Homo sapiens: one gene and its partner. The protein of the gene in region 2 purifies or fractionates together with the protein of the main gene of each other region. This does not show direct contact. Each region holds a gene or a part of one and is shown on either strand. Other genes may lie near its edges.

Region 1 (3,500 bases), on a different chromosome or scaffold from region 2:
CTCGGCCTCCCAAAGTGCTGGAATTACAGGTGTGAGCCACTGCGCCCAGCCATGTGTTTGTCTTACCAGTGTTACCCCTGCTTTGTCTTCGTGAAGGGTCAGATGAGTGTATCCAACAGAGCATGCTGGAAAGGAGAGGGGAGGGGATCTCCTAGTCAAGAGTCATCAGGGCAGGTTGCCTGGAGGAGGAGTTTTTCTGCCACGGGCAGGACTTTCCCCACTGCCTTGGTCATGGGAGGGTTCTAGGGTGTGGGTGCACTATCCCTTCAGAATCACTCAGTAGGTATCCACATCTTCCTAACAGCGCTGTGGCCACCTGGAATTGTTCATTCCTCATGCATTTCCACACCCTGCTTGTGGGGTTACAGACATTGGCCAACCATGTTGGTCTAAGGAATGAGGCTGTCTGTGCATAAGAACTTTTGGGTTCCTCACCATTTGAGTCTGCTGGTGGTGACAGTTCATTGGTTCATCCAGTAAAGATTGAAGATGGTTCTGTTGGGACCTGTGTGAGATGCCATGAACCCATAGTGACCAAGAGCAGTGCGGTCTGCATCCCCAGCCTTGGGCGACTGAGAGAGGGCCAGGGGAAAGGAGGCCTGATTGGGGGGCCCCTGGAGAGTTGTCCATGAGAGAGCCATGCCCCCCGGTCAGGTTCAGCCAGCTTCTGCGTACTCTCTCAGCCGCCGTGGCACAGCCAAGAACAAAAGCAGGGTGCTTTCTGTCCTCACAGATCTGTCCGGGGGCGTGCTCAGGGTTAACCGAGCAGGATGGGGGTGGGGAGGCGCTTTCAAAGCAGAGGGAACAGCCAGTGTGAGGTCCCAGGGGCAGGGGCAAGCCAAGCCTGGGGAGCAGATGGGCACCAGGCTGTGGAGGCCAAGGCCCGTGGAGGCCATTGCAGGATTGGAAGGAGTTTCTCAGGGTGCCATGATCAGATTTGCATTTCACAAGATAACATCAGCTGCTGTGGAAAGGGGGAGAGGGTGGAAATGGGGTGCCACCTGGCAGCTGCTGTCTTACCTGGGAAATCTGGTGGCAGCTTAGATGCTGGTGGCACCTCTGGAGATGGAGAGAAATGGAGGCCCTGGAGGCAGATGTAAGAGGTGGCCTTCACAGGACTTGGGTTGCGTGACTGTCTCAAGGGGGTTAGGGTGGGGTGGGGGGCTGGTGCCTGATGTTTCTGTGGTTTCTGGCCTGGCAACCTGAGAGACAGTGGGACCTTTGTTGGCACTGAGTGCGCTGCGGAAGCTGTCGGTGGGGTCTGAGCCTTTTCACCTCAAGGGGCCTGTGAGCCGTCCACAGGAGAGTAACCGCCTGAGAGGCGTTTGTGAGCCCACAGGATGCCGCTGGTGGATGTCTTCCATGGCAGGGCTCTAACTCATCCTGTTTGCTCAGCAAACACTCCCCAAACACTGGTTTCACACCAGGCTCTGAGCCAAGGTGGTAAAGACAGAAAAACAGAGCCTTTCCCTCAGCGAGCTCTCTGAGTACAGGAGAGACAGACACAAGCTCATATTTATCTGCCATAACATCACTGGGGCGAGGGAACCTGGGGGCAGGGTTCCAGGAGGAGGTGGTTCTTGAGCTGAGACTTGAATGACAAGGGCAGCCAAGCAGCAGAAGGCCTGCCAGGCGAGGGGTCCTCTTAGGTACTGTCCTTGGTCAGACCAGTTTCTACAGCCAAAGGCCAGCCCTGCCTCCTGCAAGGGAGGACAGGCGGTGATGGCCAGGAAGGCCCAGATTCTGGCCGAGGCCCAGGATGCCATTGGGCACTGAGCTCTGTCCTTAGCTCATGGCATCCCTCAGCCCTACTTCCCAAGTGATCCCTCCATTGCCAGCTCATGGCCTCCCTCAGCCCTACTTCCCAAGTGATCCCTCCATTGCCCTCTGAGGACTCAACGTCAGCCCTGGAGCGCTGAAGTGCCTCCCCACCCTGAGCTGCTCCGAGAGGCAGCCTGTCATGGCGGTGGCCCTAGATGGTACATGGGATTGTTCTGTTCCCAGTACACACCTGTTCATCCCCTAGCAGTAAAGGTGGGGGTGCTGGATCTGGGAGGCCCCTGCAGGAGAGAGAGAGAAAAAGCACCCTCAGGTGGGCTGTTGAGTTTGGGCTGCAGGAAGAGGCACCTACCCGCCCCCTCCGCACCCTCTTCCCTGCAGGTCTGGCTCCCAGCCATGAAGGCTAAGGGGCTGGAGATCTCAGGCACCTTCACCCGCCAGGTGGGCTCCATCTCCATGGACCTGCAGCTGACCAACAAGGCCTTGCAGGTCATGACCGACTTTGCCATCCAGTTCAACCGCAACAGGTGAGAGCTCCCTGAGGCCAGCGCACCTCTCAAGAGGAGGCCTGTGAGAGAACCCACTCGGAGTCTGTTCTGGGGACTGCAGGCAGGGGTGGGGGCTGTAGAGGGGAGGGCAGTGCCCCTTTTCTGAAGGATGTTCCCCACCACCGCTCAGGCCAAAACTCTCTGAAGCACTGGGTTTTGTTTGTTTGTTTTTTCTTTTGGAGACAGAGTCTCACTCTGTCACACAGGCTGGAGTGCAGCAGCGCCATCTCGGCTCACTGCGGCCTCCACCTCCTGGGTTCAAGCAATTCTTCCGCCTCAGCCTCCCGAGTAACTGGGACTACAGGTGCACACCACCACGCCTGGCTAATTTTTTGTATTTTTAGTAGAGATGGGGTTTCACCATCTTGCCCAGGCTGGTCTCGAACTCCTGAGCTCAGGCAATCCGCCCACCTCGGCCTCCCAAAGTGCTGGGATTATAGGTGTGAGTGACCGTGCTCAGCCAAGCAGTGGGATTTTTACCCCCAAGTGGCCTCTTCATATGGACTCCAAAGTACCAGGCAGAGTGGGAAAGGACGTCTTTCTTTTTAGTTTTTATTTTTTTTGAGATGGCCTCAGTGTATTGCCCAGGTTGGTCTTGAACCCTTGGGCTCAAGCAATCCTCCTGCCTCAGCCTCCTGGGTCTCTGGGACTACAGGTGCACGCCACCACACCTGGCCCCCCTTATTTTTGCCTCCACAGTCCAAAGGAGTGTTTTACAGACAGAAACGCCCTGCTCCAGCTGAGAAGCCCACCTCTGGCAAACACCCCACATAGGAGGGGCCCATCTTAGGGACCAGCTCTCAGAAGGCTGGTGGGGAGTGGGCCTGCCTACCAGCCTCCCCATTGTGGCAGAGGATTAAAGTGTCAGATGGGGCCTCTGGGAGCGGTAGCTGCTTCAGGCCCCTCCCCACCGGGTCCGCTACACTGGGTGTCAGTGGGAAGGTTGCGTCATGGACCCAGCCAGTGAGGCTAGGACTCCCTGGGGACCCCTGGCAGCCCCTCCTGATGATTCTTCTTCCTGAGCACGCTCATGATGAGCAAACTGAGCCTCTAAGAAGTTGACTGAAGGGGCTGCTTCCCCAAGGAAGCCTGGGGGCCAGTAGGTCCTGACCCTTGGGCAGACCGGGGCTAGGGGTGGCTCTACCACTTACCCTCATGTGACCCTGGAGGCCA
Region 2 (4,231 bases):
GAGGCTGAGGCAGGCAGATCACCTGAGGTCAGGCATTCAAGACCAGCCTGGCCAACATGGTGAAACACTGTCTCTACTAAAAATACAAAAATTAGTGGGGCGTGGTGGTGCATGCCTGTAATCCCAGCTACTTGGGAGGCTGAGGCAGGAGAATCACTTGAACCTGGGAGGCGGAGGTTGCAGTGAGCCGAGATTGCGCCGCTGCACTCCAGCCTGGGTGACAGAGGGAGACTCCATCTCAGGAAAAAAAAAAAAAAAAGGTATAAATCAAATTCCTGGGCTCAAGCAACGCACCCCACTTCAGCCTCCCAAAGTGCTGGGACCATACCCACTCCATGACCCTGTTTCTAAAAAACAAAACAAAAAATACTAAAAGCAACAACAGACGTCAGCACATGGGAAAAACTGATGCCAGTCATAAATGCTTGTGGAAATTTTATGTTGTGCCGCACTGTCGAGTGCTGTAGTTGACAAGGTGATGTGTTTCACAAGGGCTTTTAAAGCTAGTCACGCTTGCCCTGTCTCAGATTGAATTAAATCAGCCTGCTTCAGATTCCCTATGGGTATGAAAACTTCCTCCCTTCTTTCCTCGGGGCTCACTGGCCCCTCTTATAGTCCTGCCTCAGGTACTAGCCTCTTCAGCAGGTGTGATTACCTAGGCCAGGGTTCACCTGTTCTAGGACACTCAGGGTTCAGGTAATATAAGTGGGTAAAGCAGATGGAATGGATGGGCTAGCAGCTCCAACTTATTCTCAGGTGGGCTTGGAGGCTCAGCATTAATAAAGCTTAATTTTAAGAGAGGCCAGGCAGAATACCAAACTGTGAGCTAAATTTGACCTGTAAGCTCTCTGACTTAAGCCTTTCCTTGATTATATTTTCTGTGTCTTCCCTTTAGCAAGAATGGATTCGATTTGAATCCCACAGTAAGGTTTGCCGATCTGTCTCAGCTGGTTAGAGATGCCTTGCGGGCAAAAGGCCCAGTAGTGTGGTAGAAAACCTTGGCTGGAAGGGGGCTCAGGGCTCAGCGCTCAGCCTAACCTGTGCTTTCAGGGGAGCTCTTTGCTCAGGCCCCGGTGGATCAGTTTCCTGGCACAGCTGTGGAGAGTGTGACGGATTCCAGCAGGTACTTCGTGATCCGCATCGAAGATGGAAATGGTAGGCATGGGTCCTGGTGCTTCCTCCTCTTGGGAAAGGTTTTCTCTGCCTTTGGAAGGTGGGTTGATCATGTGTTGTTCCCCAGGGCGACGGGCGTTTATTGGAATTGGCTTCGGGGACCGAGGTGATGCCTTTGACTTCAATGTTGCATTGCAGGACCATTTCAAGTGAGTGGGTCTGGGAGACACACGCTCATGCCCCTCCCTTCTTTCCCTGGACAGAATGATCTCCCAGGTTAGGATACCCAAGTGTTTGTGTGTGATTTGTCTGGCAGCAGAGACTCAGGAGAACCCAGGACAAGCCACCTCTCTTCTCTGCCAATGTTCATCTCTGCTGTAAAGCCTTCTCTTTTACCTGAGGCTCATCTCTACCATCCCAGCCTTCGGGCCTGCCACCTGTCTCCCCTTACCAGTCCCCTGAGCAGCCAGAGTCCTCATCAGGCTCCTGTGGCCTTTCTGGGCCTGCTCCTCCATGTAATCAATGGCGCTTGGATTCCCAGGGCACCCAGCAGATGCCCTGATGTCCTTTTCTGAAGCTAAGAGACAGGGCAGGAAGTCCTCCTCCACCATCTGCAGGGCTCGAACTCAGGCTGCCAGTGAGTGGGCTGTGCCCGGCCACTCACATGGGCGCCTCTGGCTCTTCCCTTACCGGTGCTGCTGGGTGGTGTGGTATGGAGGGTGGGGGACTTTTGTGTTGCCCTCTACTTTTGGGTATCTGTCTTGTCCCCCCGTCTGCCTTCTGAGTGTTTGAGGGTGTGTAGAGACCGCATCTTAGTTCTCATGTCATATACTGTAGAGGGAAGGGCAGGCTCTCACGTGTCCTAGAGATAGTGTTAGGACCCTCTACGTAAGTGATCTCGCTGCATTCGTAGCCATCTTGAAAACCTATAGAATTGTGGGCATATTTTGCTGATGAGGAAACCAATGTGCATGCCGCTACTTAAGTGTCAGATTGGGATTTGAATTCAGGCCTCACTCCCAAGCCTGCACTCTTTCCAGCACCCCGTCTCACTACGAGGCTCAGCCTGGACTGATAGCAGGCAGTAGTGAAGTGAGCCAGTGATTGCAGGGCAGCTGGTCTCTTCCTTCCTCACCTTTTTCCTCATGTTCTCTCCCCAGGTGGGTGAAACAGCAGTGTGAATTTGCAAAACAAGCCCAGAACCCAGACCAAGGCCCTAAACTGGACCTGGGCTTCAAGGAGGGCCAGACCATCAAGCTCAACATCGCAGTGAGTTCTACCCTTGCTTGGCTGTGGTGACGTGATACTTGTGGCCACCCAGCCCCAGAGCCCATTGCTCTTCTTACAGTTCAGCTCCTTCAGTTCAGCAGATGTTTAGTGAGCATCTGCCTTGTGCCAGGTCCTGCATCGGGGTGAACAAGAGACCTCTGTTCTCATGGAGCTCAGAGTTGAGCTGAGACAGGCAGGTAAAAATGTGATAACAACATGGCAGGAAAGGTTCCATGACTAAGGGATGCCCTGGGTGCCGTGGGCTCCTAGAGGAAGGGTGTGCAGCCCATAGTTGTGGGAACCAAGGAAGGCTTCCTGGAAGAAGGGACCTGTAGGCAAGGGAAGAGTGATCAAAGAGTGGTTCACACAGAGGAACAGCAGGTGCAAAGCCTCTGAACTGAGAAGGAGCATCAGTCATTTGCTGCCAGAGGTGGTGTTTCTGTCCTAGCTATTAGAGTGCATCAGGAGGGACCTGTGTGCTCATCCCAGGCTGTGTCTTGAATAAGGAAGATTTGGGAGAGTTCTGGCAGGAGGGCGTTGAGGTGGGCGCTGGGAGTCCTGGGCAGCTTGTGCTGATGGTGTTGTCCTGGCTCCTGTGTCTTCGTTCTGAGCTGCTCTGCCTCTGGCTTCCCTCCCGTCAGCTCCTGTTCATAGGAACAGGTTGGGCTGGGCTGGGCTGGGCTGGGTTGCCTAAAGTTGGCCTTTACCTGGCTGCAAGGGTGGAGAGGGGAGATGAGGTCAGAGTCATGATTGCGGGGACCCAAGGACCAAGTGGATTGGTTTTTGTTTTTGCTAGGAATACTGTGTTGAGATGGATTTGTTTTTTCAAGAAGCTTTGTAACTCTAAAATAATGCTTTTCCTCTTTACTTACTCTTTCTCCTCTTTTCTGCTTCGTGCTGGTGATGATTTGGGATCCTTGAAGTTGGCCAGCTGGCCCTTAAGAGAGAAATGCAAGTCCAATCCAGTGGACTGGTTGGGATGTGATTCTTTCTCTCGCTTGGAGGAAACTAACATTTAATGAGCATCAGCTGAGGGCCAGGTAGTGGTTTTTTTTTGTTTTGTTTTGTTTTTTGTTTTGTTTTGTTGTTTTTTTTTTTTAGGCATTTCTCATGTGAATTAAACATCCTCTCCCTTTCCTCCATGAGATGAGGAAATGGAGGCTTAGGGAGGGTTGGGGACTTGCCCAGGGTCACAGAGCTAGAAATAACTGGCACAGCTGTGCTCACACTGAGGTCTTTGAGGTCTTTTGACTTCAGGGCTGGACTTACGATTTTATTAAGCTGCTGCTTTCCTTACAAGTAGGGAACACATTATCTTCATCTGTGTAACTTGTGCTGCTTTCTGGCTCATGCTTGGTGCTCAGTTTTTTTTTTAAAGCATTTTCTTGAAGTATAATGTGCATGTAAAAAAGTGTACAAATCATAAATGCAGAACTCTGTGAAATTTAAAAAATCTAATCTATAGGCTGGGAGTGGTGGCTCACGCCTGTAATCCCAGCACTTTGGGAGGCTGAGGTGGGCGGATCACCTGAGGTCGGGAGTCCGAGACCAGCCTGACCAACATGGACAAACCCTGTCTCTACTAAAAATACAAAATTAGCCGGGCATGGTGGTCCATGGCTGTAATCCCAGCTACTCCGGGGGCTGAGGCAGGAGAATTGGCTTGAACCTGGGAGGTGGAGGTTGCAGTGAGCTGAGATCGAGCCATTCATTGCACTCCAGCCTGGACAACAAGAGCGAAACTCTGGCTCAAAAAACAAAACAAAACAAAACACCCAATTTATAAACTTGCACCTTGCTCAAGATGCAAAAGATTGTCAGCACTCTGGAAACACCTCTCCTGGCCCCT

Evidence for each region. The genes of interacting proteins can lie anywhere in the genome.
Region 1: the proteins of NECAP2 (region 2) and AP1B1 purify together in Homo sapiens (affinity purification with mass spectrometry; 4 studies listed by BioGRID and IntAct, with this or other methods). This does not show direct contact.

Annotation. Positions count from the first base shown.
Region 1 is NC_000022.11:29,333,071-29,336,570, reverse strand, and holds part of AP1B1 (AP-1 complex subunit beta-1), read left to right. Parts: intron 1-2,160; coding exon 2,161-2,306; intron 2,307-3,312; exon of another isoform or gene 3,313-3,408; intron 3,409-3,500. UniProt on the Homo sapiens protein: Subunit of clathrin-associated adaptor protein complex 1 that plays a role in protein sorting in the late-Golgi/trans-Golgi network (TGN) and/or endosomes.
Region 2 is NC_000001.11:16,446,820-16,451,050, forward strand, and holds part of NECAP2 (adaptin ear-binding coat-associated protein 2), read left to right. Parts: intron 1-1,050; coding exon 1,051-1,155; intron 1,156-1,240; coding exon 1,241-1,322; intron 1,323-2,273; coding exon 2,274-2,382; intron 2,383-3,305; coding exon of another isoform or gene 3,306-3,401; exon of another isoform or gene 3,402-3,422; intron 3,423-4,231. UniProt on the Homo sapiens protein: Involved in endocytosis.